Linked DNA regions of Homo sapiens. The protein of the gene in region 4 purifies or fractionates together with the protein of the main gene of each other region. This does not show direct contact. Each region holds a gene or a part of one and is shown on either strand. Other genes may lie near its edges. The genes, in order: TBC1D2, RPE, SH3BP4, DNM1, LSM12, ZFAND3 and MYO1E.

Region 1 (4,066 bases), about 30 Mb from region 4:
CTGTGCAACTCCAAAGCCCATGCCCCTTCATCTGACCCCTGTAGGGCCCACCACTGATGAAAGTAGCAATGCTCTAAAAAGATAAAGGATTATTTTTTAAAGATGATTTATTGGCTTTTAAAAATTTAAATAAAGTGACAACTTATGACCACGTATCAAAATCTGAGATGAACCAAACAACTCGATTGAGAAATATTAAAAGTACCACTTGGGCCGGGCATGGTGGCTCACACCTATAACCCCAACACTTTGGGAGGCCAAGGTGGGAGGATCTCTTGAGCCCAAGAGTTCAAGACCACCCCGAACAACATAGGGAGACCCTGTCTCTACAGAAAATAAAATAATTAGCTGGGCAATGTGGTGCATGCCTGTAGTCCCAGCTACAAGGGAGACTGAGGCAAGAGAATCTCTTGAGCCCAGGAGGTTGAGGCTGCGGTGGGCCGTGATTGCGCCACTGCACTCCAGCCTGGGCAACAGAGTGAGACCCTGTCTCAAAAAAAAAAAAAAAAAAAAGAAAAGAAAAAAAAACACTTCAAAAAGCTTAATTTCATCAACCCCTCTATTTTTCTTTTCTTTTCTTTTCTTTTTTTTTTTTTTGAGATGGAGTCTCGCTCTGTCGCCCAGGCTAGAGTGCAGTGGTGCGATCTCAGCTCACTGCCAGCTCCGCCTCCCGGGTTCACACCATTCTGCCTCAGCCTCCTGAGTAGCTGGGACTACAGGCACCCGCCACCACGCCTGGCTAATTTTTTTGTATTTTTAGTAGAGACGGGGTTTCACCATGTTAGCCAGGATGGTCTCGATCTCCTGACCTCGTGATCCGACCGCCTTGGCCTCCCAAAGTGCTGGGATTACAGGCGTGAGCCACCACGCCCGGCCCAACCTATTTTTAAGAATTGGTCCTAAGACATTGCTTATAATCCAGACTTTAGGTTTCTTGAATTCATGACATTCTCACTCCTCATCTTACAAGTCCTACTGAGGCTCCCTCCCTCTGCCCTGGTTCCGTTCTTTTAAGCCTATTTTATTCTGGTACAAGAATTCTGGGGGTGGGAGGAGAGCCTCCTGGGCTGGTGTCTCAGTCTTAGATTCTGGGAGCCAAATGCGGGAAGGAGACAGCTAGATGTAATGAAATAAGCTTCAGAGTCAACTAACTCCCCAAATTGAGGGAAAGACACCCACTGGTCCTGCTCCTAGGGCAAGTCTGAACAATGATGTCTGTTGGTTATTTCCCTGGGCAGTCATCCAAGGTAACCTCCAAATCTCAGCTGAAGCAGAAAATGGCCTAGGCCCCCAGTTTTCCTGGAACCACAGGAATGTTAATCTCTCTCCACTGAGCCCTGAGAAGCTGACTTCTTCATTCTGGACGTTCCAAACATTCCCTTTTGGTTTGCAATCACTGTGCTGTCCTCACCCCAACTTCCTGCCACACCCCAGGGCTCCCACAGCTCCATGGTAGCTCTTTCCTTCCTCCAGGTCTTTACTGGGGCTGTAGCTTGGCCACATCTGGAGGGCCATCCCCACCCTCATCTCCCACCTGCTGCTCGACCATCTCTGGCCCTTCTCATTCTTCACAGTTTCTTTTAAATGCTCTGGACTGGTATTCCCCACAACCTCCACCCCAGACAGAAGTCATTGCCTTTCCCACAAACACCCTTGTTCCCCTGACTTGCAGTAGATCATTCCACTGTGGTGGGTCATGTTCATTCCCACCAGCCTTTGCAGTCCTTGGAGGTGGGAACTCTCACCACTCCCTCTCTGGGCCACGGCACCTGGCTCAGGGCCTGGCCTGGCACCGAGTGGTGCTTGGTAAAGGTTGGATGGATGGATGGGCATGTGGAAGGAAAAGAGAGAACCAGAGAAAGGATGGTCACTAGTCCTAAGGTTTCAGAAGATGCAGGCTAATGTGGTCTTGTCATTAGCTTCTCCAAAAAAGTCATGGTTTTTGGCAGTTTTCCTCCAATATAGAATTGTTCTTAGCAAATAAGGCTATCCAGCCAATCCACTCATTTTAATACTTTGGTGTGGTATAGTTGACATGTCTCTAGGAAACCATGTTTTTCCAAATGAGAAGCACAGAGCAGGGCAGTGTTGCCTGAAAGTCATACCTACCTGGTATTAGTTCCACGTGGACCTGGCTGCTGATGTCCTGATCCTGGCCCAGAACAAATTCACATCCCTGCTTTGGGACAGATAGGCCTGAGTCCAGGCGTGGCCCTCCCTGGGGAAATTACAGGCTTAAAGGCACAGGGAGCTGAGCAGACCTTGAGTTCCTGTGTGAATTAGTTGCCCCTGCTGAGGAATAAATCAAGCTCTATTGTTTCTGAACTTTCTAGAGTTCCTTCCACCAGCTTTGCAGGCATCGGCTGGTGGGCTGAAGGTAACTAGGCACAAATGGCTTGAATGAGGTCCTCTGTGTGTGGCTTTACATGGGGATTGCCAGTGTATTTCCTCTTTAACCCTGACTCAACTTGATTGGTAGTGACTGGCTGCTATATTGAGAATGATTCTGAGGCCTCAACTAGGGTAGGCTGTGCAGGAAGAAGTATGGGAGATTAATTAGTGATGTCTGCCACAGGGATGAGAGGGAAGAGTAATGCCACATAGCTGCCACCCCTGGTTTTCTTAGTTACTGAGCACAGGCTTTGGAATCTAGCCAATTGAGATTGAATTCCATTCTACTCTCTGCTGGGCCTCAGTTTGTTCATCCCTGAAATGGATGTGTATATGTCAGGGTATGGGTTCAGCTGCTGTGACAAAAACATCTCCACTGGGTGTGGTGACTCATACCTGTAATCCCAGCACTTTGGAAGGCCAAGGTGGGCAGATCATTTGAGTCCAGGAGTTTGAGACCAGCCCGGCAACATGGCAAAACCCCTTCTCTACAAAAAAATACAAATATTAGCCTGGTGTGTTGGCATGTTCCTGTGGTCCCAGCTACTTGAGAGGCTAAGGTGGGAGGATCAGCTGAGCCCAGGAGATTGAGGCTACAGTGAGCCATGTCTGTGCCACTGCACTCCAGGCTGGGTAACAGAGGGAGACGCTATCTCAAAAAAAAAAAGTTTCAAAGCACTGTGGCCCAAAACGAGTGAGAGGTTTCTCATTCACATTAAAGAACCCAGAGGTAGGTGAGCAACTCTGAGCTGGGGGGCAGCCCTTTCTCAACATGTACCTTCTGCTGTGGGTCTGAGGCGGCCACTCTAGTTCCTGCCACTTCCCAGCCAGAAGCAAAGAGAACTGGACCAGAGGAGCGTGTATCTAGTGGTTTTAAAGGTAGGACCCAGAAGCTGCCCATCTCACTTTTCATTTCCCATTTAGGCAGAATAGTTACTTGGCTACACCTCACCATGGCTTGGCTGGGAGATGCAGTTTTAAGCTGGGGAACCATGTGCCCAGCTAACAGTCACTTGAACAGAGAAGGAGAAAGTGAGTGTCAGGATGAGATGCCGCAGGGATGCTGCTGGGCACCTCTCACGGTTGTTAGGAGAACTACTGATAACATATACCCCACTGTGGCGCCCAGCAGGCCCTCCCTGAGCTCACAAGATTCTTCCCTCTCCCTGCCCAGGAGCTAGTGAAGATCCTGCACAAGGCACTGGAGGCCGCCCAGCAGGAGAAGCGGGCGTCCAGCGCATACCTGGCGGCGGCTGAGGACAAGGACCGGCTGGAGCTGGTGCGGCACAAAGTGCGGCAGATCGCGGAGCTGGGCCGGCGGGTGGAGGCCCTGGAGCAGGAGCGGGAGAGCCTGGCGCACACAGCGAGCCTGCGGGAGCAGCAGGTGCAGGAGCTACAGCAGCACGTGCAGCTGCTTATGGACAAGAACCACGCCAAGCAGCAGGTCATCTGCAAGCTCTCTGAGAAGGTCACCCAGGACTTCACGCACCCCCCTGACCAGTCTCCTTTGCGCCCCGACGCTGCCAACAGGGACTTCCTGAGCCAGCAGGGGAAGATAGAGCACCTGAAGGTAGGGGCCTCCCCTCAGGGCCTGCCAGTCCTGCCGGTCCTCTGTCCCAGCCCTCAGGGAAGGTGCGCTCTCCACCCCTAAGGGTTTGCTAGGTGGAGTGGGGAT
Region 2 (4,066 bases), on a different chromosome or scaffold from region 4:
GCACTCTGTAAACCCTATCAATGAGCTTTTCATTCTTTGTTACATTAAAACCCATTGTTTGTCTTGTATTTTGAATGGGTCTTTTAAGTACTGATTTACTGAGTTACACACATCTTACAAATAGTGACAGATTTCATTCCATAGTACCCCAAAATCACATTTGGTAAAATAACTACAGATCTCATCAGAAAAGCTTGTTAACTGTTGGGACGCTATCAAACCCAGAGTGGTAAGATACACAAGTTTTTTAAAATTCTAATTTTGGGAACAAAAACTGACAAGGTATCTTTCCTTGAAGAGACAGCCTCATTTAGTTAATATTTTTTAAATGTCATTAAAATAGCCAGGTCTGAAAAACCATAGTTGATCTGTCAGTTGTTCTTTCAAACAAACATAGTGTTCTGGAGGAAAGCAGCTAGTTCAGATCACACCTCTATGGTGCAAGTGGTTTTCCTTGAGAAAACCATTATGTTCCAGTATGCAGCAATGCAGCACAAGCACTTTATATGCACTTCCTACTTTGCCACACAAAATATTAAAAAGGCATGTATTCAGGGACCAAGATTTATTAATTTCTACTGCTTCATCAAGGATATTTATTGCAAATGCATGATGATGAAGAATAACTCCTGATACAGTCCCTGCCTTGAGTTGGTTAAGGCACCAGCAAACTAACTCATCAATGTTTTTGTACCATCAGTAGAAATAATGGCAAATAATTTCTTAGGATTATGAAAATAGTTTTGATATACTCTCATGGATGACCCGAAAGGGTCTTAAGGATTTGTGTGGGTCCTTATACAACATACTTGAGGATCACTGATTTAGACAATAACAGGAACAGACTTTTCCCATCACTGTATTTCTTAGACATTTATTTCTACTCAATATGAAAACTGAACAGTTAAGAATGTTAGCGTTACATATACAACACAACATGTAATCTAGGTCCTAGAATACATTCATGTATCAATTATCCAACAACCAAAATCCAAGAATTAAACAAATGTTTCTCAATATAAAAAACAAAGGTAGTCGGGCTCAGTGACTTACACCTACTATCACAACACTTTGGGAAGCCAAGGCAGGAGGATGGCTTGAGCCCAAGCATTCAAGATTAGCCTGGGCAATACAGGGAGATCCCATCTCTACAAAAAGTAAAAAAAAAAAAAAAAAAAAAAAATAGCCGGTTGTGGTGGCACACACCTGTAGTCTTAGCTATAGCTGTGGCGGGAGGATTGCTTGAGCCCAGGAGTTCAAGGATGCAGTGAGCTATGACTGTACCACTGTACTCTTGCCTGGGTAATAGACGGAGTCTGTCTCTTAAAGCAACAACAACAACAACAACAAAAAGCGAAAAACCAAAAAACAAGGGTCACAAAACCCAAACATTAAAGTGAATGGAGTTCATTTATCTTTTAGACCAAATTCTAGAAAGATTAATTAGCAAGTTTATCAACAAATTAAAAACAAGAAGAAAAAGCAGATTGTGTGTGGTGGCAGCAACACAGGATTGCTAAAAGGAAAGGCACTGACAGGAAGGGATATAGACAATAGTATGGTGTGACAATGGGAGCCCAAATAAAAGGGAGCGAAAAGGGGAAAAAAAGCAAGCATTAAAAAAATTCACACAAGCAAGCCAGAAGCGAGGATTCTGGCCATTGGTTGTACAGTGGGAGAAAACAATGCTATTTATTTCATCTACCTCTCATGGTCATGAGAACAACCGTAATTCATAGGAAAAGTCACGGTATCTGCTATATAAGCTAATCATGGCTTAAAAGAAAGTTTAGATAATCAGAGGACTATATCCCATTATATGGAAATTTCAAAATGGTGAATATATTGGTGGAACATTGTTTCCTCATGCCACATAAATGAGGTAATAATGTACATTTTCTTTGGTGAACTCAAAGTAGATAGATCCTACACAGAGGCTGGAGACTATATTCAACAGAATTTTCTGTGATATTGGAAATGTCCCATAGCTGCACTGTACAATATGTGACTACTGAAGACTTGCAATGTGATTAACGTGAATAAGAAACCGAATTTTTAAGTTTATGTTATTTAATTTAAAAAAAATTTTTTTTTTTTGACATGGAGTGTCACACTGTCACTCAGGCTGGAGTGCAGTGGAATGACCTCAGCTCACTACAATCTCCACCTCCCAGGTTCAAGTGATTCTCATGCCTCAGCCTCCTGAGTAGCTGGGATTATAGGTGTTTGCCACCACGCCTGATTAATTTTTGAATTTTTAGTAGAGACAGGGTTTCACCATGTTGGCCATTCTGGTCATGAACTTAAGTTTATTTAATTTTAATAGCTACATGTGGCTTATGACTACCATAGTGAACAGCACAGAGTCCTTCATAAAACTGGTCAGCAATATGCTGATTAAAAAGAATCTAAGTTCTACTAAATTGTAAGCTACGTTAAAAAAACTATTTATGGCTAGGCTGGTGGCTCAAGCCTGTAATCCTAGCACTTTGGGAGGCCAAGGCAGGTGGATTGCTTGAGCCCAGGAGTTTGAGACTAGCCCGGGAAACATGGCGAAACTCAGTCTCTATTTTAAAAAAAAGAAAAAAATAAATAACACTATTTATAAAAATGTGTAAAATTTCTCATGTTTAAGAGATCTGGCAGGTGAGACATTGCTAACTTAACATAAATCACTTGTAGGCCACTAAGTAATCTTAAAAATCTTAATTTACATTGTACTAGGACATTGGAGTGAATATTTAGGCACCACTTGTAGAAAGCTCCAATTTGCACAAAATAAATGGCTTCTGGACCATAAATCAACTGATTCATAAATTCACTTAACAATTACACTGAGCCCTGATCATGTCTATGCTTAGCTTTAGGAAAACCACAGTAAACAAACTGGATTCAATCCCCGCCCTCAGAGAGTTTATAGTCTAATAAAAGTAATCGCAGATCAAAGGAAGTTCTCAGAGGAAAATCAACAGGTGATAAGATAATTGGATAAAGGTTAATTTGGGAGAGGACGCTCAAAAAGGCCTCTCTGAGGAAATGACAAATGACTTGAGGCCCAAAGATGAGGCAGCCAGCCAAGCTACTACCTTTCCATGCAGATTAGCCAAGGCCCAGAGGCAGGAAGAAGTTTGGCTTGTTACTGGAGTCAGGCCAATGAAGACCCAGGATAGGAAAGTTGGGGAAAGGGTGCCAGATGAACTTGGAAGTTAAAATCAACCATCCAGTTTTCCTTTACTTGAGCAACACATCCAGCTTCAGATGGCGTAACACCCACTTACCAAAGAAAGGGTCCTGGCCTAGCTGCTTTCGAAGGCTTTCTACCACAGGGTGACCAAAGGTGATGTTGGGAACAAAATGCCTACAAGACAAACAAAATCTACTCTGAAAATGTTTTCAATTCAGTTTCTGTATCTCTCTCAATATGAATTCTGACACAGGTTGAGGGGATTGTCTGCAATGTTTTTCAATTTAATACTTAATCATCAGTATTAAATAATACTAAAAATAATGGGTCATTTTGGTTTTACTAGGCAATGTCTCCTTGACATTTCAACAAATCACGTCACATATATTTTCATAATGATTTGACTCCGTAATTCACGACCCATGACAAGTAGAAATGGAGAGATGATAAAATCAGAAACCCTCAGGCTTTATGACTTGCCCAAGTCACACACTAGTTAGTAAGTTCTGGACTCTAATATTGATCTCCTGAATCCTAGTCTATCTCAGGAGGCCTGTGGCTACTTCTAATCACTTCTATCACAAGGCACTAAATGACAGTTTCTTTAAACTTTCTTAAAGATGACTAATAAAGAAACATGATGTGTTTATTAGTAACGACCACCTTTCACCGAGGGTTTACTACATGCCAAGCATCGTAATTTACTTCATTTCATCTTCACGACAGCCTTACAAAGTAGATGCTATTATTATCCCCTTTGAAGAGCACAAGATAAATAAAATCCTTAAGTAACTCAGTTAATAATTTGTGGAAGTGGATTCAAATTAAGTCTACCAGCCAGGCACAGTGGCTCACGCCTGTAACCCCAATACTTTGGGAGGC
Region 3 (4,066 bases), on a different chromosome or scaffold from region 4:
AGTCTGGACACAAAACTGGGTGAGGATGGCCTCCTGGTCGTCCTTCACCTGAACCCGCAGCGTGAAGTCAGAGAGCTCGTTGGGGTTCTGGGAGGTGATGGGGAAGATCAGGCGGCTCACCTTGCCCAGCTTCAGCTGGAATCCTCGCACCACTTTGGCCTGCTCGCTGGCTTTGACCTCGTAATTCGTCATATTGGAAAACATACAGACCTTGAGATCCTGGGGCCTGGACAAAACGAACTGGTGCTTCCCCCACAGCTGCAGGGCCACCGGGGCAGGGTTGGGTGCCTGGCGTGTGACCTCGCTGACCAGGAGCGTCTTTGGGGCACAGTCATGCCCAAAAATGGTCACTACCGTCTTGAAGGATGGGTGGATGTGTTTAGGGCCGTAGAGACCCACTGTGACTTTTTTATTGATGAAGTCCCACACGGTGGAAGGGTAGAGGATGCTTGGGCCATGGGCCACGACAGCCACGTACATACAGGGCTCCAGGTTGTGCAGCTGTGCCTGGACCGTGTCCCCACAGCTGCAGTTGAGCGGGACGGAGACATATGGCCCTTCCTTCGAGTCGCTCCTCAGGCACTGGAGGCCCACTGTGCTTTTGCTAAAAAGGTCATTTTTTATCTCGGCTGACACTTTCATCTCCAAGATGATAGAGGTTTTCACCTCCAGGTTGCTCAGCTTGACCTCCAGCACAGGGCTGATGCTGCAGGACCTGTCACTGTTGAGCTCCAGCGGGGGGTCCAGCAGGGCTTTCATGGAGATCTGCTGGGTCTCCCCAGGGGCGACGTGGCCCTCGGGCACGTGGATGCTGATGCTGGTGTCAGGAAGCTGGACAGCACCCCCGGAGCTATCCAGCTTGCACACGATGTTTGTCTCCACGGCTTGGGTCTGGCCCCAACCAGGGCTTTGGCCAAGCAAGTCCAGGTCGTGGCAAGACCGGGCCAGCTTCCTGTGGTTTAGCCAGGCAGTTCGAAAATCCTCCCGGCTCTGAAATTGCTCGGGGGCAGGTGATTTCAAGCCGGTGAAGAAACTCGACGATGTGGGAGCATCGGACTTGGCTTGGAGGACGGAGAGTTCCGAGAGACTGTAGGAGCGCTTGCTTCTGAAGAAGGGGTTGTCCCGCCTGACCGGCGGCTCTGCGTGGAGTCCGTTTGTGACTGGAAGCTCATCGAAGATGTTGCCAGTGCTATTCGTGGTGGCTGAGCTGGATTCGGTGAAGGAGGATGTACCTGCGTCAAAAAGGAGCAAATCCACAGTACTTTTGGGATTCAGCTCATCCAGGCTGGGCATGACGGGCACGTTCCCATTCAGAAATGGATTGGTCTGGACCCCATTCCAGAAAGGGTTATTACTGTACATTCTGCCTGGTACTTTTTTGTCATCTGTCCATCCCCCGAGCAGCTCCAGCTCCTTGGCTACCTCGTCTGGGCTGTCTGGAAGATTATCAATCATACCGCTGTCACTCAGTGTTGAGTTCCGGTAGTTCAAGGGCTGCACATAGGAGGAGGGGATGTAGCCCATTTCGGTGGTGTTGTGTGCGTACCACCACTCACCGCCAGATGTGTCCAAGACGTAGAGATGGTCGCCCTTGGAGAACTTCAGTGTGGTGAAGTTGGTGGGGCAATAGTCCTTGATCGCAATCACTTCCTTTGCATTTCCGAAAGGTGTGGGGTTGTCTACGAGCAAGGCACTGGGAGAAGGCACTGTGCAAAACACAAAGAAAACAGATGGTGAGGGCAAGGCCGGCGGGGTGTCCGGAGAGCTTCCCAAAGGAGAGAGGACGGTGGTAAACAGACAGGTGCACAATAACCCAGGCAAGTCACCAACAGAAACAAACCAAAGTGAAATTCAGTAGGTAATTTACCTGGCCAACGAACTGGTTCCTGCTACTTGGTCACCTTCAAAATCGACAGCCTATGTCCGGCAGAAAGACCACAGAGGAGCCTCTCCATCACTCACAGAAAGGCAAATCAGTGCAATGGAATATTTAACATGCCCTACGCCCTAAACATCTCATTTTGGGCAACGTTAAAATTCTTCTTAAAAGAACTGCTACTAGATACAAAGAGAAACTGAATGTGATTAACTTAGAAAACACGGTGACACGGTGAGTTAGGTGACCACTGCATGTGATCAGGGACTGGAAATGAACAGATTCCAAAAACTCCCGCAATGACATGTATGAGCTGATTCCAAGCTCTGCCTCTGGATGGAAAGCTTCCCTCAACCTGCTTCTTAAATTTCCAAACTCAACCTGTTCCTCACCAAACTGTTTCCTCAGATAAAGTAAGAATTCTGAAGTCAGTTCCTTCCAACCTCTTTTATTCTTATTTTACTTATTTATTTATTTATTTATGAGACAGTGTCTCACTCCGCCACCCAGGCTGGCATGTATTGACATGATCTCAGCTCACTGCAACCTCAGCCGCTCAGATTCAAGTGATTCTCCTGCCTCAGCCTCCAAAGTAGCTGAGATTACAGGTGTGTGCCACCATGCCTGGCTAATTTTTGTATTTTTAGTAGAAATGGGGTTTCATCATGTTGACCAGGCTGGTCTCAAACTCCTGACCTCAAGTGATCCTCCCGCCTCAGCCTCCCAAAATGATGGGATTACTGGTGTGAGCCACTGCGCCTGGCCCAACCTCTTTTAAATTATCATTCAAAATCACAACATGAAAACAGACTGTCTACATACCTTGAAAATGAGAGATTATGCCTAGTCATAGCTCATACTATCATTGAACAAGTGTTGAAGCAGTCTGAAAAATTCCAACCCTTCAAAAAGTGAATCAAGTTAATTCATGGCTCCTGCCATTGAACTCTGTATGTTACCAATGTAGACGGCAAATGAAACAGCAAAAATAAGTCAGCCAAACAAGTGGTGTGTTTTGAAAAATAATGGATATGATTAAATGAGAAGATATATTCAGAAGATGAAGAACACTCTTTCTGAAGAAAATAAGCACATATACTTCTCCCCAGGACTCCCCTCCCCCACCTCCCAAACTGCCTCACTTACGGAGTCTGCTGACATTCTGGCTTCCCGTAATAAACAATTGAAAGAAAGAAAGGAAACGTTTCTTTCTTTCTTTCTTTCTTTTTTTTTTTTAAGTTGCCAAAGCAAATGACCAAAGAAAGGAATCCGTTTTTAGTTAAACTAAACCTACATCTTTTCTAATGTGATGAAGTCCACAGTCATCGTATTCTATCAAATTGCCCCCCCGACCCCAGAAAATCACCTGCCAGTTTCCTTTTCCTTTGAAAGGAAATAATCACACTTCCTTGGGAAAGTGTTAGGAAATCAGGTAGACAGTTTCTATTCATTTACATTAACTGGGTTACAGAGATGCGCTTAGCTGGGAGCATCCCTGGGCCTTGAAGCCCCACCTACCTCCTCCTGTGAAATTACAGCAGGCCCGTCTATCTGGGTGTCTCAGAGAACCCGGCTCTGGGATCACTAAACCCAGACTCGAGTGGAGCCCTTAGAAACTGTGTGATCTCCAGAGCCTAAGACTCCACTCATGGTGGACAAAAAGTGTATTTCCTCAATGAGCTTTGGAGAGGACAAAATGCAAAGACGTAGATAAGGCACTTGTCATAATATTGCTTGACCCAACTTGAGGACACACAGGATGTTATGTGAAATAGACATCTCCTGGCCCCAATGTTATCTTTTTCCATAGCTCTTACCACCAACCACTACATCATGTACCTGATGAGGTTCAGAACATGCTACCCCAAAATATAGCACCACACATATTTTAAGCTGGAGGAATTTGAGAAACCGCAGGTGCAGGCAGGACTCCCTGCCTGCCCCCTGAAGCAGGTCATAGACCCTCAAGTGGGAGGGGCCCTCCCTATATGTGGGGGACAGAGCATCCTATCTCCAAGGACACAGGGAATCTGCAATGCCCAGGCCTTGCTGTCCTCCAGCTCATGACACTTGCTTATGCTTTTTCTTGTCCCATCTCATTTTTCCAGGACTCTCCACACCTCATCAAATCCCTCAGGTTTAATTACTTCTTTAAGTCTTCATTTCCTTATGAAGAAATTATATATCTGT
Region 4 (4,066 bases):
AGGGGAGGTGCCCAGCTGAAGCCTGTGCTCCCCTCGTAGGCTACGCTCAGATGCCCCAGAATTCCCTCTCAAGCAGTTCCAAGCCCACCGCCCAGGCCCAAGTGGGGACCAGCCCAGGCCCAAGGTGGGTCCTTTCTGGAGCTGGGATATGAGGGCTGGGGTGTTCACAAGTGAACCCTGGAGGGATAAAGAGGGAAATGACGGGGCAGCCTGCGGAGAGGGGACACCTGTCCCCACGCCTCCACATCCACCACGGAACTCCAAGGAGTCTGAAATTCTGAATTCAAACCCAGCTGGTCAGGTTGTGATGAAGGTGTGTTTGTTATGGTGGGAGGGCAGAATGTATTGCATTTAGCAATTCCTCAGCTTGATTTATAACTGGAATACATAGACATATGGCATGTGGGCGTCCGTTTCTCCACGCCTGACAGCACTGTGTCCATGACCCACTTCCTCCACTCCTGCCCTGCCCACCCTCTCCACTCTCCCACCTGCACCCCCTTCCCTGGGTCCGACCCTCTGACCCAGCCAGGGCCTGGGAAACTCAATTCTCCTGGCGCCGAGATCAGATGCTGTCTGCCAGGGTCACCTTTCACTCCCAGCTCCTCTGGGCCACGGTGGGGTGTGGGTTTGGAGAGGATGTCCTCTGGCTGTGGATGGGTGCATTTCCATGTTTCCAGCCCCAGGGGTGTGCTCCACATGTGGCCCACAGGCAGTGTGTGCTTAGCACGTGGCAGCTGCGTGCTCTGAGCATGCAGAGGCTGGAGCAGAGTGTGGCAGCTCTCCAGGTGGGTGGGGGGGTGTCAAAGGGCCCCTAACAGGCCCCTCAAGCCCCGCCTCCCCAACCCTCCTAGTCTCACCTCTGGCCTCTGCTCCTCACTCAGCCACACTGCCCTTCATCCTTCATCCGGGTTCTCAAACCCGTTGGGCTCTTTTCCCCCTAACTCTTTGCTCAGGACAGTCCCTGCACCTGCGGAAGTCCACACCTTGGCTTGACCACGTCCTAGTCTTGCTCAGGTCCAATCTTAAATGCTACCTCCTCAGGAGGCCTTCTGATGGCCCAGAAAGCCCCCCTCCCCTCAATGTCAGGCTCCTTGCAACGCAGGAGCAGCCTCCTTCAAAATACACGACAAACGTGCTCTTTGTGGATTTCATGTCTGTCTGCCCCGATCAGCCGCAAGCCTCCCCAAGCAGGATGGGTCTGGCTGACTCACAACTGTATCCTCAGGGCCTGGCACACAGCAAGTGCCAAGGAAATATTAGTTCCCTCTGCCCCATCCAGGTCATCGATACTCTGCCTAGGATGTCTCATTTATCCCCTAATAGACTTTGGCCTCCATCTCCAAATCTGAGAAATGGGACCACTATGATGCATCCTGGTGTGTTCAGAGGAAGAGACAGAGCTTAATAGTGGGGAGGGGGCTGTCTCCCCTGGGAAAGGCTAGGTTTGACAAAGAGAAGGGCTCTCAGAGTCCAGAGACCAGCATCACGTCCATGCTGGGATAGAATGCAGAGCAGAGAGCTGAGTGCTATGGCTCACACTTGTAATCCCAGCACTTTAGGAGGCTGAGGTGGGTGGATCACTGGAGGTCAGGAGTTGAGACCAGCCTGGACAACATGATGAAACTCCATCTCTATTAAAAATACAAAAATTAGCCGGGCGTGGTGGTACATGCCTGTAATCCCAGCTACTTGGGAGGCTAGGGCAGGAGAATCACTTGAACTTGGGAGGTGGAGGTTGCAGTGAGCTGAGATCGCGCCATTGCATTCCAAGTCTGGGTGACAGAGTGAGACTCCATCTCAAAAAAAGAAAAAAAAAAGAAAAAAAAGAATGGGGAGGAAGGGACAAGGGCATTGGGGGAGACAGAAAGCCTGGGGGTGGGGGGTAGGCAGAGTTACGGGGAAACCTAAAACCCTTCCTCCCAGGCTGCTCCTTCGGCTCTGGGCAGAGGGTCGCTCCTCAGGACCCCTACCCTACCCTGGATGGAGAAGATCCCCAACCCGTGCCCCCATCCTGGTGCACCTCCCAGCCCACGCCATCCCAGAGGGCTTGCCTGTCTACGCCCAGGCAGGGATAGAAGCAGCGCGTCCTCCATGCCAGGCCCTGCCCCGAGTGCTTCCTGGGGATTGTTTCAACACTCACCATAATCTCACAAGGGATGTGCTATTATTATCCCCATTTTACAGATGAGGAAATAGCAGCTGGGCAGGGTTTGGGGAACATGCCCAGGGTTTCTCTGCTTGTAAGTGGCAGAGTTGAGCTTCATACTCGGCAGGTCTGACTCCACACCATGCTCTCGGCCCCTCTGCCACATTCCCACCAGACTTGGCCTGCCCTAGGACAACCCACTCTTGGCCCTAGAGGAGCACTGGGGTGGGGGGTGTAGCGGGGCGGGGGTGACAAAGAGGAGCTGGAGGGACAGCGAGGAGGCCCCTTTGGCCTAGGGCACCAGGCATCTGTTCATGAAAGGCTGGTGTGTGCTGGGTCCACAAACACTCCCCCATCTACACTTACCCCCAGGATGAGCTCATCTACTCTCGGGTTTAAATCCCATCTCTACACCAACGACTTCCAAATTTTTACTTCCAGCCCGTCTTCCCCCTGAGCTCTCAACTTGCATCACCAAACTGCCAGCTGACATCTTCCACTTAGAAGTCTAACAGGCATCTCAGGCTCAATATGTTCAGAACCAAACCCTGGTCTTCCCCCATCCCCCCAGTCTGCTCCTCCTTACTCTTCCCGACTCTGTTAATGGCACCAACACCCACCCAGGAGCTCAGGTCAAAGTCCCAGAAGTCATCATTGATTCCTCTTTCCTCACCCTCCACATTCATCCTCCAGCAGGACTTCCTCTAAAATATATCCTGAAACCCACCCACCATTCTCCTTCTGGTTGCAGCTGAAGCCCTTGTCCAGGCCCCCCACTACCCCCTGCCCACTGCAGCAGCCTCCCCACCAGTCTCCTGCCTTTTCCCTCACCCGCTCCCCAAGTCACACCCTTGCTAGAATTAGCTCATCACTCCACTACTAAAAAGCTTCCCACAAGAGAGAAAATAAACCCAAACTCCTCACTCCTCATGGCCTAAGGGCTTTGTAGATCTAGCCCCTGCCTATCTCTCAGGTCCTGTCTCCCCCTTGCTAGCTGAATACCAGCTACAGGGTCTCCTTTCTGTTCTTCAAAGGCACCAAATTCTTTGCTACCCCGGGGCCTTTGCACCTTTCCCTTGGCCTGGAACTCTCCCGCCCCTGGCAAGTTACACAGCTTCTCATCCCTTGGTTCTCATCTCAGATGCCACCTCCTCCTGGAGACCTCTGACCTCCCTGGGGAGAGCAGCCCCACTCCCCTCCCTGACGTTCACCACATTTTCCAGTTGTCTTCTGAGTTTCTCCCTCTGCAGTGCAGAGTCTTGGTCTTTTCCACCATAGAATCCCCAGTGCTGAGACATCGTGCACCCTCCACAAATGTTTGCTAAATGACTGAATGAATTGGCCTCAGTTTTCCCTTCTGTAAAAGGGAAGGGGGTGAAGAAATAGTATAGACCCAGACAAGTTCTAGCAGCATCCCAGGCAGCTGCAAGGCTACCTCCATTGCAGAGTTGACAGCAGGATCCTCCTGAGCACCCAGAAGCCCGGGTGGGCCTGGGGCAGCCCTGATGCATTTTCCTGTGAAGCATTTTCTGTTGGGGATTGGCTCCTGGGAAGCCCCAGGAGACAGAATGGCTGTTACTATGCTCACCAGTCTGGGGACTGAGCCCTGTTGGAGAGGTCAGGAGCCCTTGAGGGAGCTGGCAGGCTGAGACAGTGGAACCCACTGAGCCTCAGTTTCCCTGGCCTTCTCACTAGCTTTCAGAGGATCATGAATGCTTTTCTGCCTACTCCTTCACATCAACCTAAGCCCCCTCCCCTGCCCTGGGCCTGCATCTGGACACCCTGCACATCCTCCTGTGGGGACAACGGCCAAGGGCATTGGGGTGGAGAGGGCAGCCAGAGGGCCCAGGCCTCCTGGGGCACGGTCCAAACCTTGCTCCACCACTCAACAAGCAAGTACTCGATGAAATCTGCTGT
Region 5 (4,066 bases), on a different chromosome or scaffold from region 4:
ACTCAGGAGGGTAAGGCAGAAGGACTGCTTGAGATTGGGAGGCATGATGGCGTGTGCCTGTGGTCCCAGCTACTCAGGAGGGTGAGGCAGAAGAACTGCTTGAACCCAGGAGGCAGAGGTTGCAGTGAGCTGAGATTGCACCACTGCACTCCAGCCTTGGTGACAAAGGAAAACTCCTCTCCAAAAAAAGAAAAAAAAAAAATACAGCCTGGTACAGTGGCTCACACCTGTAATCCCAGCACTTTGGGAGGCCGAGGCAAATCACCTGAGGTCGGGAGTTCAAGAACAGTCTGACCAACATGGAGAAACCCTCTCTACTAATAATACAAAATTAGCCAGGTGGGGTGGCACATGCCTGTAATCCCAGCTACTTGGGAGGCTGAGGCAGGAGAATCACTTGAACCCGGGAGGCAGAGGTTGTGGTAAGCTGTAATCGTGCCATTGCACTCCAGCTTGGGCAGCAAGAGTGAAACTCTGTCTCAAAAACATAAAAAAATAAGACGGACGTGGTGGGGCGCACCTGTACTCCCAGCTACTCGGGAGGCTGAGACAGGAGAACTGCTTTAGCACAGGAGGCGGAGGTTGCAGTGAGCTGAGATAGAGCCATGGCACTCCAGCCTGGGCAACAGAGTAAGACTTTTTTTTTCTTTTTTTTTTGAGACGGAGTCTCGCTCTGTCTCCCAGGCTGGAGTGCAGTGGCGCGATCTCAGCTCACTGCAAGCTCCGCCTCCTGGGTTCACACCATTCTCCTGCCTCAGCCTCCCAAGTAGCTGGGACTACAGGCACATGCCACCACGCCCAGCTAATTTTTGCGTTTTTAGTAGAGACGGGGTTTCACCATGTTAGCCAGGATGGTCTTGATCTCCTGACCTCGTGATCCGCCCGCCTCGGCCTCTCAAAGTGCTAGGACTACAGGCGTGAGCCACCGTGCCTGGGTGAGACTTCATCTTAAAAAAATAAATAATAATGTGCCAGGTACAGTGGCTCACGCCTGTAATCCCAGCACTTTGGGAGGCGGAGGTGGGCGGATCATGAGGTCAGGAGTTCAAGACCACCCTGGCCAAGATGGTGAAACCCTGTCTCTACCAAAAATACAAAAATTAGCCAGCTGTGGTGGCAGATGCCTGGAATCCCAGCTACTCCGGAGGCTGAGGTAGAGAACTGCTTGAACCTGGGAGGCAGAGGTTGCAGTGAGCTGAGACAGCACTACTGCATTATAGCCTGGGAGACAGACGGAGACTCTGTCTCAAAAAAAAAACAAAGTAATAATAATAATAATAATACATAAAGTCAAAGTTTCCAAGAACCTACCAAAGACGTTAAGTGAGAGCCTAGTGTAATGGCATAAATCTTCTATGGGCCCTTTGTCACAATGCCCTCCTTCCCCTGCCTTATCTCATCCCATAATTCAATGAGCATTAGTTAGCTACAATAAAAAAATCTGGGCCGGGCACAGTGGCTCACGCCTGTAATCCCAGCACTTTGGGAGGCTGAGATGGGGGGATCATGAGGTCAGGAGATTGAGACCATCCTAGCTAACACGGGGAAACCCTGTCTCTACTAAAAATACAAAAAAATTAGCTGGGCGTGGTGGTGGGCGCCTGTAGTCCCAGCTACTCGGGAGGCTGAGGCAGGAGAATGGCGTGAACCCAGGAGGCGGAGCTTGCAGTGAGCCGAGATCGCGCCACTGCACTCCAGCCTGGGCGACTGAGCAAGACTCCGTCTCAAAAAAAAAATAATAAATAATAATAATAATAATAATAATTTGGGAGACATTAACTAACATCTGCCAAGTCTAATGACTTTAAAGACTGATCTACTTGGTTCATTCCTAAGTCTTTTCTACTAGACTACCCTGCCCCTGACCACAGAACATAGATGTTTTTCTTTACTTAGAAACGTTACCTAGGGGCTGGGCCAGTGGCTCATACCTGTAATTCGAATACTTTGGGAAGCCGAGGAAGGAGGATTGCTTGAGCCCAGGAGTTACAGACCATCCTGGGCCACACAGTAAGACCCTGTCTCTACAAAAAAAAACTAGGCTGGGCGCGGTGGCTCACGCCTGTAAACCCAGCACTTTGGGAGGCCAAGGCGGGTGGATCATGAGGTCAGGAGTTCGAGATCAGCCTGGTCAACATGGTGAAACCCCATCTCTACTAAAGATACAAAAAATTAGCCAGGCATGGTGGCGCACGCCTGTAATCCCAGCTACTTAGGAGGCTGAGGCAGGAGAATTGCTTGAACCTAGGAGGCAGAGGTTGCAGTGAGCCGAGATCACGGCACCACCGCACTCCAGCCTGGGCAACAGGGCAAGACTCCATCTCAAAAAAGAAAGAAAAATTAGCCAGGTGTGGTGGTTTGTGCCGGTAGTCCCAGCTACTTGGGAGGCGAGGTGGAAAGATCACTTGAGCGAACCCTGGAGGTCGAGGCTGCGGTGAGCTGTGACTGCATCATTTGCACTCCAGCCTGGGCACAGTGCGAGACTAACTAAAAAGAAACAAAACAACCACCCAGGTGTGGTGATGGGAGATTGTAGTCCCAGCTACTCAGGAAGCTTGGGCGGATCACTTGAGGCTATGAGCCAGGAGTTCGAAGCTGCAGTGAGTTATGATCATGCCACTGCACTCTAGCCTGGTCAACAGAATGAGACTATATCTCTAAAAAACAGAACACACACACACACATACACACACACACGAAACATAACTTAGCATTGTACATTATTCAGGGTACTTCATGTTGCCAAACTATGAGTTCCTTGGGCTAAACACAAAGTAATAGAAAAACAGGGGACTTGGCCAGGTGCAGTGGCTCACGCCTATAATCCTAACACTTTAGGAGGCCGACGCAGGTGGATTATCTGAGGTCAGGAGTTCAAGGCCAGCCTGGTCAACACGGCAAAACCCCATCTCTACTAAAAATAGAAAAATTAGCCGGGCATGGTGGCAGCAGGCGCCTGTAATCCCAGCTACTCAGGAGGCTGAGACAGGAGAATCGCTTGAACCGAGATCACACCGGGCAATGGACTGAGACCCTGTCTCAAAAAAAAGAATTCCCCCTACTGCAACCCTACTGTCCTCTCTCAAGCTTCCTCTTACATGCTACTGCTGGAGATAGAAATAAGACTTCTTAGCCTGAAGTGAACTATCATTCGAAAGCAAAACAGGCCAATTTCCAAGAAGTTGCTAGTTTATACCTTCCCTAGTTGAGCTATTATTAAGTATTTCCTGTATAAGCCCTTCTCTTCCATTTCCTGCTAGGTCAGAGTCAACAAATATCCGGTTTTTATCAACAGGTTTAATTAAGCAGATCACTTACTATGTCAGCAAGATGGGCCAATATGTGATGATACCTTTGACTAAAGTTAGAGTAGGCCGGGTGTGGTGGCTCAAGCCTGTAATCCCAGCACTTTGGGAGGCCGAGGCGGGCGGATCACAAGGTCAGGAGATCGAGACCATCCTGGCCAACATGGTGAAACCCCGTCTCTACTAAAAATACAAAAAAATTAGCCGGACATGGTGGCGGGCGCCTGTAGTCCCAGCTACTCGGGAGGCTGAGGCAGGAGAATGGCATGAACCCGGGAGGTGGAGCTTGCAGTGAGCCGAGATGGCGCCACTGCACTCCAGCCTGGGCGACAGAGCAAGACTTCGTCTCAAAAAATAAATAAATAAAATAAAATAAATAGAGTAGGCTAGTGCTTCTCCAGACTGCAAGCAACTGAAACTTCAACAGTTTTCTTCCAGACATCCCAGAGTACATTAGTTCCCTTCCATATGCTTAAATGATCCTCCATCTTAAGAAAAACTCAAGTCCGTGATCTTAAAAATGAGACTAACTTTTCACGTCATTCATGCAACATGTTAATAGCTGCCCGAAATAGCTGTTTTCAGCAGTAGCCCAAAAGGCTCTCTCTAATTCTAAGTCAATCTCCAAAAAGGAATCGCAAAGCATCCTAAAAGGTTGATTTCAAGGGAAAGCCAATATAGCTTACTCATAAACATCTCTGCAAACGGAAGAATGAATAAACGAAATCCAAAGATAACCCTCCAACCTAATTTTAGTTTTT
Region 6 (4,066 bases), on a different chromosome or scaffold from region 4:
CGATCCTCTGACAATCAATGTCCCAGCATCCGTACAAGTCTATGACCAAAGGCATCCATGTACAGGAAGTCTGGGCCCCAGGAAGCAATGCTAGATGATTCTAAAGCAAGGCAGAAGAAATGTCTAACAGAATGTGTTATGTTTTAGAATCAAAGAACTATTCCAGATAGCAAGAGATCCACACCTTTGAAGCTCTGGAATATGCCCACTTACCCTTCCCTAGATGAAGATCTGTTAGATGCTCTCTAATGCTCCCTGCCACCAAGAGCGAGGGTAAATAAGCTTCCAAAACTGCTCACTATCCTCCACAAGCTATTGCCCAAGAAGGTGACTGTGTATGTGTAATTTCTTCGAGAAGCAAACCATTCTCCGGCATTTTCTCACAAGTCAACTTAGTGTTTTAATGAGAAGCTAATGAAATAAATAGTAATCTATAGAATCATCCTCACTTGCATAAGAAATTTACATTTCCTCTGCTAATTAGTTAATGAAACCTTTGTGCCACAGGGCGAGTTGCTTAAATAAGAGAAACAGATGTCCAGGGCAGGGGTTCTAACGACATGATAATGAATTAAATAATTCAACTATTCATTTGTAAGTTTTATGTCAATTAGAAAAAGACTACCAGGAAAAAAAAATCCAAACATGGTTGACATTAAAGCAACCATCTACTACCCATATTTGAATAAATTAACCTGTAATGATTTACTTTTACTCACAAATATCATTCCCTGTTACCGTGAAGCATTGCCAATTTCCTGAAAACACCTAACAGTCTACTTACATACTCTGAACTTGGGCAGTAACAGTTAAATGTGGAGAGAGAGGTGACAAGAAATAACTCTTACAATGCAGCTTTAACTGTCAGAAGCAGCGAGTCCTTGCAAGGAGCATGCTCATTAGTAGCAGGAGGAACTCCCGTGCCAAGCTGGAAACCATTCCCACCCCAGGAGTTAACAGTGACTTCTAATTAAGGTCCTTCATAAAGGGCCAACAAAGCAGATTCTTTTTTTCCAGTATGCTTTTACTTGAGAACATAATCTAGTGTAGTAGATATACCCACACAGAGCTGCCGCTCCCCCATTCCACGTTCACAACTCTTGGTACTCACCAGACCCCTGCTTTCTCTGCCAATGTTTAATAGAATGAGAAAGATATCACATCAGATCTAGTCAAAGGAAAGTCTGATCAAGAATCATAATGTGATTAAATAAGGAAGGAAAATCTTAAGAAGAAGGATTTTGCCTATTTAGCTTTCTTGGTTTGAAAGTAACTGCGCTTAATTTTCGACAGAGAGACAAGTACTGCACAGTCCGTCTCTCGGTATCCAAGGGAGATTGGTTCCAGGACCCCCCAAGGATACCAAATTCCATAGATGCTCAAGTCCCTTATATAAAATGGCAAAGTATTTGCATATAAGCTACATACATCCTCCCGTATACAGCTGACCCTTGAACAACATGGGGTTTGGGGCGCTGACCCCTGTTACAGCTGAAAATTTTCATATAACTTCTGACTCCCTCAAAATTTAGCTAGTAATAGCCTCCTGCTGACCAGAAGTCTCACTGATAACACACAGACAATTAACACATATTTTGCATGTTTTATGTATTACATACTGTATTTTTACAATAAAGTAAGCTACAGGAAAAAAAAATTAAGAAAACCATATGGAAGAGAAAACACAATTTCTCTTCCTTAAGTGAAAGTGGATCATCGAAGTCTTCATCGTTGTTGTCTTCACGCTGACTAGCTGAGGAGGAGACGAAGGAGGAGTGGGGGGCTGGTCTTGCAGTTTCTGGGATGGCAGAGGCAGAAGGAAATCTGTGCATAGTGGACCTGCACAGTTGAAACCCATGTTGTTCAAGCATCAACTGTACTTTAATCTTCTCTAGATTACTTATAATCCCTAATACAATATAAACACTATGTAAATAGTTGTTATACTGTATTATTTAGGGAATAATGACAAAAAAACTACATGTTCAGTACGACACAATCATCCATTTTTTCCCAAATATTTTCAGTCTATGGTTGGTTGAATCCACAGATGTGGAACCCATGGATATGGTGGGCTGGTTGTACAGTAATTTTAAAGACATGGAATCTTCTGAAGAGAGGAATTCTTCTAATTGTACTTTCCTAGCCAGTCTCAGAAAGTAGTGTTAAGACTTTCAATTTAAGAACACAGTTTAACTGGAAAGCTTAACTGGAGACAACAAACAGAGCTACTTCTTTTAAAATTCTGTTTTGTCTCTGGCAGAAATTCACATTTGTTCCTTACTGTCATTCTTGTCTTTATTACTCATGTTCCCGCCTGAAAATTTCCAAATAAATTGTGTCATGCCTGTCAAAGCTGAATCTCAATCTCTCTTAATCTCCTGTCACCCTGCAGCTGGCAGCCTGCACACACCCCGTGCACTAACCATGGCTGTGGCTTCCTGACATCTCAGGCAGACAGGCTTTTAGGCCTCCGTACAAGCCAACACTCACAATACAGAATAGGAGAGTGGGAGAAGCAATGCGGCAACAAAGAGAAGAAAGCCTTCTGCTATTCCCTTCACCCACACCGTCCCTTACTTCTACGAAAGATGAATCTGTTTAATCTCAGGCTCTATGACAGCTCTTGAGGTACTCAATCAGTTTTTTTAGAACCTATCAGTCTCTTGACAGATTGACATTTATGATCCCAACAGCCTGTGCAAACATCAGTAAGAGCAATAATTAACGAACCCTCACACATCACTGCTGTTTCTCCTTCGACCACTTAAAAGGAGCTTTTAGCTGGTAAAACCTTTGTCCACGAAAAATACCACACTCTCACTGGAAAAACTGATAAAAGAGACTTGAAAAAAACCTGCTTTACAGGTACTTTCTGTGTTTCTCCTCATGCTTTGCTTTCGGGGTATATGCTGGGATTAGATTCATCTTCTCCTGACATTTTACTCTGTGTGCCATGAAAGACTTTGAGAAAACACCTTGCTACCCATTAAAAAAAAATTCCCACCTCATTTGACTGAAATTTTCCCTTCCTTTCTTAATGTTCCCAATGACCCTAAAATAATTTTGGAGTAACACATCTGTTGAAAAGCCATTGTGTGGACAGAGAACAAGGTTCAAGAGGCTGATTATTAAAATTTTGTGGAGAATGCCATCATCTTCATTTGATATGGAGACGAATCTAGCTTGAAATACTCCTAGGATGCCATGTCCTAGATCATAAACATTTAAAAAGTCAGTTGTTCACAAACTGCCAGGCAGTATAATTCCTAAGCATTAGTCTCCCTCTCCTCCTGGGAACACAAGATTGGGAAATCTGGAATGGCTGATCAGGAAGGCTGACCATCTTGGGAGTGCACCTGAGCTTTGAGGTCTTTGTCCTTAGTATGCTCAAAAAACATACGGCATCAGAAATCTTCCTGGGGCCAACTCTTATCATCTACCAATCAGATTTTGGTCCTCCGGATAGCAACGCAGAAGCTGCTTCTGCGGAGACATTTTTGACTAGAAGACAGTTTAAAGAGCCGCAGAACACACAGAAGTCAGGAGTCATAATAAAATTATCATATGCCCTTCAGGAGATGAGTACCCAAAACCCCAAAGGTATGTTTTAAAGACTGAGATTAGGTTTTTCACTTCCTCACAGCCCATCTTCCCTTCCCATTTCTGGTGCACAGGAACTTGGAAGCTGATTTTGGCGGTACACCATGATACCAGAAACAAGTGACTATGAACTCATCAAAAGATCAAGCAGGAGAAGCTAATGGGCCATGGGGGAACAGCTCTCCATCAAATAGAACAATCTTAAATGAAAGTCATGGCAGGCTGGGCGCAGTGACTCACGCCTGTAATCCCAGCACTTTGGGACGCTGAGGCGGGCAGATCACGAAGTCAAGGGATTGAGACCATCCTGGCCAACCAACATGGTGAAACTCTGTCTCTACTAAAAATACAAAAATCAGCTGGTAGTGGCGCACACCTGTAGTTCTGGCTACTCAGGAGGTTGAGGCAAGAGAATCGCTTGAACGCAGGAGGTGGAGGTTGCAGTGAGCCAAGATCGCGCCAT
Region 7 (4,066 bases), on a different chromosome or scaffold from region 4:
TATTTGGGACTATTAATTGCATTCTTGCCTGAAGGGGAATACTGACTTTCAAGATGGTATCTTAAGTCTGGGGAGCTGTTTCCTTGCCTAAGAAAGGACCTGATAAGCATTGTCTGTTTTGGAGAGGTCAGTGACTAGGGCCTTGCCTTCTTGCTCCCATCAGAACCCTCCTGGCATCATGAGCATCCTGGATGACGTGTGCGCCACGATGCATGCGGTGGGTGAGGGGGCAGATCAGACGCTGCTCCAGAAACTTCAGATGCAGATTGGGAGTCATGAGCACTTCAACAGTTGGAACCAAGGCTTCATCATTCATCATTATGCTGGGAAGGTATGGCCAATATCCATTTTAATGTCTATCTGTTTTAAGCCTTTGGGTTTGTGATCTGGTTTCTCATGAAGCAAATCATATGGCTCGCCGTATTTTATTGATTCAACAAACGGAATTTATTAACTATCAAAGGAAGCAAAACAAAAGATTGTATATACTACTGCATTTTTTTGTATGTACATTTATTTTTACATTGTAGAAGAAGCTACTACTTTTTTACAGCATATAAATGAACATAGGTATAAACCAGCAAGAATGAAAGAAATAGCATATATCTAATGAAAAGAGTCGGAATTTCTAGAACACAATAAATACCTACATCCTACTTTTTGGGAACCAAATGCCAACTACATATATATAACATGGCAAGTGCTGCTACATCAGAGGTACCAAAAATACTTAGGAATTGTAAATAAGTATCGTCCAGCACGTGGATGCTCAATAAAAGAGCTGGAGGACTAAATAAATAGGAAAATCACTCTACCTACTTTCCTGTTTCCATCTTTTAGGAATTCAAGTTTATTCAAAATTTCGTTATATAATCCTGTATCTATGATCTCTTCAATAATTTCGGAATGGTAGTTTTAGGCAACTTTAAAGCTTAAGCTTATTCTGAATTTCCCAGAGTGTTTTTGCACTTTTTTTCAGATGGGCCTCTTCTTCAGGGGTCAGCTTTATCTTTATAAGGTTGGTAATACCGTTCTCTCCCAGGATACAAGGAATACTGAGGAATACTTCTTCATCTATTCCATAGAGGCCCTTAATTATGGTGGAAACTGGATGTATTCTCCTAAGATTCTTCAAAATACTTTCTGTTAAATCGGCCACAGATAGGCCAATGGCCCAAGAAGTATAACCTTTCATTTTAATAATCTCATAGGCAGTTGCAGTCACTTCTTTGTGGACATTTTTCCATTGCTCAGGATCTTTATCAGTTCCTATATCAGAGTTCAGATCCTTCAAAGGGACACCAGCTATGTTCACTCCACTCCACACAGGAACACTTGAGTCTCCATGCTCTCCGAGGATCCATCCATGGCAGCTTTCAGAATGGATACCAAGCTTTTGTCCAATCAAGAAACGAAAACGAGCAGTATCCAGATTACAGCCGCTTCCAATAATACGGTTTTTGGGAAATGCACTCAACTTCCAAGCTACATAAGTTAAGATATCCACTGGATTGGAAACAATAATCAGTTTGCAGTGGGGGCTGTACTGGACAATACTGGAAATCATTAACTTGAAGATGGCCACATTTCGCTGGACTAAATTAAGGCGCGTTTCTCCCTTTTCTTGGCGTGCACCTGCTGTGATAATCACTAGGTTGGAGTTTGCTGTGACAAAGTAATCTTTGCTACAAACAATATTTGGCATTTTCGTGAAAGGGCTGCCATGTTGAAGATCCATCGTCTCACCCTTCAGTTTGTCTTCATCAAGATCCACAAGGGCAAGTTCATCACTCAAGCCTTTTAATAAGATGCTGATAGCGCAGGCCATGCCCACCGATCCAGTTCCTATGATGGAGACCTTACTGTGATGAACGGGCTTCTCGGAAGTGAAACGCTCAATAAGCTCACTCTTCACAGTCGCCATCTTGCTCACGGGGGTGAAGAGCCAGGTGCCGTTGAGCGGGATGCGCGTTGCTTGACGCGGACACAGGGCCATCCCCAGGCATAGGAAATTCGCTCCCACCGAGCTCACTCTCTGGCTGGCCCGCACAACAGGCACAGTCCAACTCATGGCTGCTCACTGAAGAAGTGGAGAGAGAGAATGGAAAAAAGCTGCTGATCCGAACGTTGAGACGCCAAGAGAGCCGTTGGCAGGACCTTCAGCACTCTACGGCAGGTGCGCGTGCCCCGCCCCCTGGCCCTCTACTGCGGCTGCGCGGGCCTTGCCAGAGTCTCCGACACGTGCTTTCCGTGGGTGCTCAGACTAAGGCAGTGAAGGGCTGCTTCTCTAGCAAGTGATTTCTGGAGTTAGTTTTGCTAAGAGTATTATCAATAGTTGACATGCTTAAGAGGCTAACCGAGATCCCTGGAATTACTAGTTTTTTATTTTTAATATGAATGCTGAGGAAACATGCTTCTGTTAACTACAGATGAAAATAAGGTTACGTTTTCTGAACCGTGACCCTGCCAGGAAGGATAGGGCTCTATGCTTTGCGTACTGGTGGCTGCCTGCACCATCTCCCAGTGTCCCAGAATTGGGCGCCTGCTTTCTGGTCTATGGCGCTGGAGGCCTATTTTGAAAGGATTCCACTGCCTTGGTGCCAGTCCTGGCCAGGACCCACCCTGGGACAGTCGGCTGGGGCTTCAGCAGGGTAGGGGCCGGCTGGGAGTCACTCCAGCACTAAATCTCAGCATACTACTGCATATTTTTGGAAAATGAATCACCCTGCTACATGTATTAGCTGCTGAATAAATGGATTTTCGTCTTGCCTCTTGCTGGAATCACAGACTGGCATTCCTTGTCTCCCCATGCCTACTGGTAGTATAAATCAAGGCCCAGAGTGCACTTTTGGTGTTCTTATAAAGCCCATCAGTATTGGGTGCCTACTGGATGCCAGGCTGTGTGGGGCTGCTGATGATAAAAAAGTTAAGTTGAGGTCGTGGTCTTGGGGACTTCCTAGTGCTATGGAAATCCCCTGGTCTCATCCATCATCCCAGCTGATCTCTTGTTAAACAGAGTATCTGAGCATGAGTTTCTGGCCAGATTGGTGCAACTTTGATACCACTTCTGGGAGAAACTGCAAAGCCTCAGATGACATGGCTCATTGCAGTGAATTACTGAGCATGAGGGGCTTCACTTTTGCTCTGGCTTAGCTAAAATTTAGGAAAAGTATTGAGTATGTCACTTAGACACCCCTATGGATCCACTGAAGAAGGGGTATGGGGACTTGAGAGCTGGAGTTCTGATTACGGATCAGCTGGGCCATCCAGGCAGCCAGATACTCATCAGCATCTGCAGGCCTTCCCCACTAAGTCAGCTAACAAGTAAGACGTGCACAGCCTTCCTGTGACAGTGCACAATGAAATCCCAAATGCAACATCTGGAAATCCACATGTTGTGGTGAGGGTAGCCATGACAGCTTTGGTTTTTTGTTTGGTGAAATTAGATTTTTTGTTCAATAAATGATTTTGTTCAATTAATTACATTTTGTTCAATGAAATTCGATTTCTTTCCATTCTTGGCCAGGTATCCTATGACATGGATGGCTTTTGTGAAAGGAACCGGGATGTGCTTTTTATGGATCTCATCGAGCTTATGCAGAGCAGCGAGCTGTAAGTATGTTTTGCCATAGCTGACAGGGGATATAGGTTTGATGAAATTTTCAATATGAAAACAAACTTATGAGCTGGGTGTGGTGGTGTGTTCCTATAGTCCCAGCTACTCAGGAGGCTAAGGCAGGAGGATCACTTGATCCTAGGAGTTTGAGGCTGCACTGAGCTGTGATCACTCCTGTCAATAGCCACTGCCCTCCAGCCAGGCAACATAGGAACACTGTGTCTCTAATAAAGAAAAAAACAAAAACAAAACAAAACACCTGTGATGTTTAGTGGTTAGCATTTTGTTCCTTCATGCTATTGGGTCTGGATTATCATTTAATCTATTTGGTTTCTCAAAATAGCTTTCTTTTCTCTATATCAGTCTCTCCCTTTTATGTCCCTAACACTTCATGCCCCCAAATTCCAAGTGCCATCTACAGGTCCTTCAGGGCCTCAGGCTTTCTACCTT

Evidence for each region.
Region 1: the proteins of DNM1 (region 4) and TBC1D2 fractionate together in Homo sapiens (co-fractionation; one large-scale study listed by BioGRID). This does not show direct contact.
Region 2: the proteins of DNM1 (region 4) and RPE fractionate together in Homo sapiens (co-fractionation; one large-scale study listed by BioGRID). This does not show direct contact.
Region 3: the proteins of DNM1 (region 4) and SH3BP4 purify together in Homo sapiens (affinity purification with western blotting; one study listed by BioGRID). This does not show direct contact.
Region 5: the proteins of DNM1 (region 4) and LSM12 fractionate together in Homo sapiens (co-fractionation; one large-scale study listed by BioGRID). This does not show direct contact.
Region 6: the proteins of DNM1 (region 4) and ZFAND3 fractionate together in Homo sapiens (co-fractionation; one large-scale study listed by BioGRID). This does not show direct contact.
Region 7: the proteins of DNM1 (region 4) and MYO1E purify together in Homo sapiens (pull-down; one study listed by IntAct). This does not show direct contact.

What each region holds. Positions count from the first base shown.
Region 1 is NC_000009.12:98,220,728-98,224,793, reverse strand, and holds part of TBC1D2 (TBC1 domain family member 2A), read left to right. Parts: intron 1-3,565; coding exon 3,566-3,961; intron 3,962-4,066. UniProt on the Homo sapiens protein: Acts as a GTPase-activating protein for RAB7A. Signal effector acting as a linker between RAC1 and RAB7A, leading to RAB7A inactivation and subsequent inhibition of cadherin degradation and reduced cell-cell adhesion.
Region 2 is NC_000002.12:210,008,949-210,013,014, reverse strand, and holds part of RPE (ribulose-phosphate 3-epimerase), read right to left. Parts: intron 3,359-4,066; coding exon 3,279-3,358; intron 1-3,278. UniProt on the Homo sapiens protein: Catalyzes the reversible epimerization of D-ribulose 5-phosphate to D-xylulose 5-phosphate.
Region 3 is NC_000002.12:235,038,528-235,042,593, reverse strand, and holds part of SH3BP4 (SH3 domain-binding protein 4), read right to left. Parts: intron 1,707-4,066; coding exon 1-1,706. UniProt on the Homo sapiens protein: May function in transferrin receptor internalization at the plasma membrane through a cargo-specific control of clathrin-mediated endocytosis.
Region 4 is NC_000009.12:128,205,813-128,209,878, reverse strand, and holds part of DNM1 (dynamin-1), read right to left. Parts: intron 1-4,066. UniProt on the Homo sapiens protein: Catalyzes the hydrolysis of GTP and utilizes this energy to mediate vesicle scission and participates in many forms of endocytosis, such as clathrin-mediated endocytosis or synaptic vesicle endocytosis as well as rapid endocytosis (RE).
Region 5 is NC_000017.11:44,056,511-44,060,576, forward strand, and holds part of LSM12 (protein LSM12), read right to left. Parts: intron 1-4,066. UniProt on the Homo sapiens protein: Nicotinic acid adenine dinucleotide phosphate (NAADP) binding protein. Confers NAADP sensitivity to the two pore channel complex (TPCs) by acting as TPC accessory protein necessary for NAADP-evoked Ca(2+) release.
Region 6 is NC_000006.12:38,109,239-38,113,304, reverse strand, and holds part of ZFAND3 (AN1-type zinc finger protein 3), read right to left. Parts: intron 1-4,066.
Region 7 is NC_000015.10:59,204,946-59,209,011, reverse strand, and holds part of MYO1E (unconventional myosin-Ie), read left to right. Parts: intron 1-163; coding exon 164-331; intron 332-423; exon of another isoform or gene 424-925; coding exon of another isoform or gene 926-2,071; exon of another isoform or gene 2,072-2,169; intron 2,170-3,526; coding exon 3,527-3,612; intron 3,613-4,066. Other genes in the region: LDHAL6B (L-lactate dehydrogenase A-like 6B), read right to left, coding at 926-2,071. UniProt on the Homo sapiens protein: Actin-based motor molecule with ATPase activity. Unconventional myosins serve in intracellular movements. Their highly divergent tails bind to membranous compartments, which are then moved relative to actin filaments.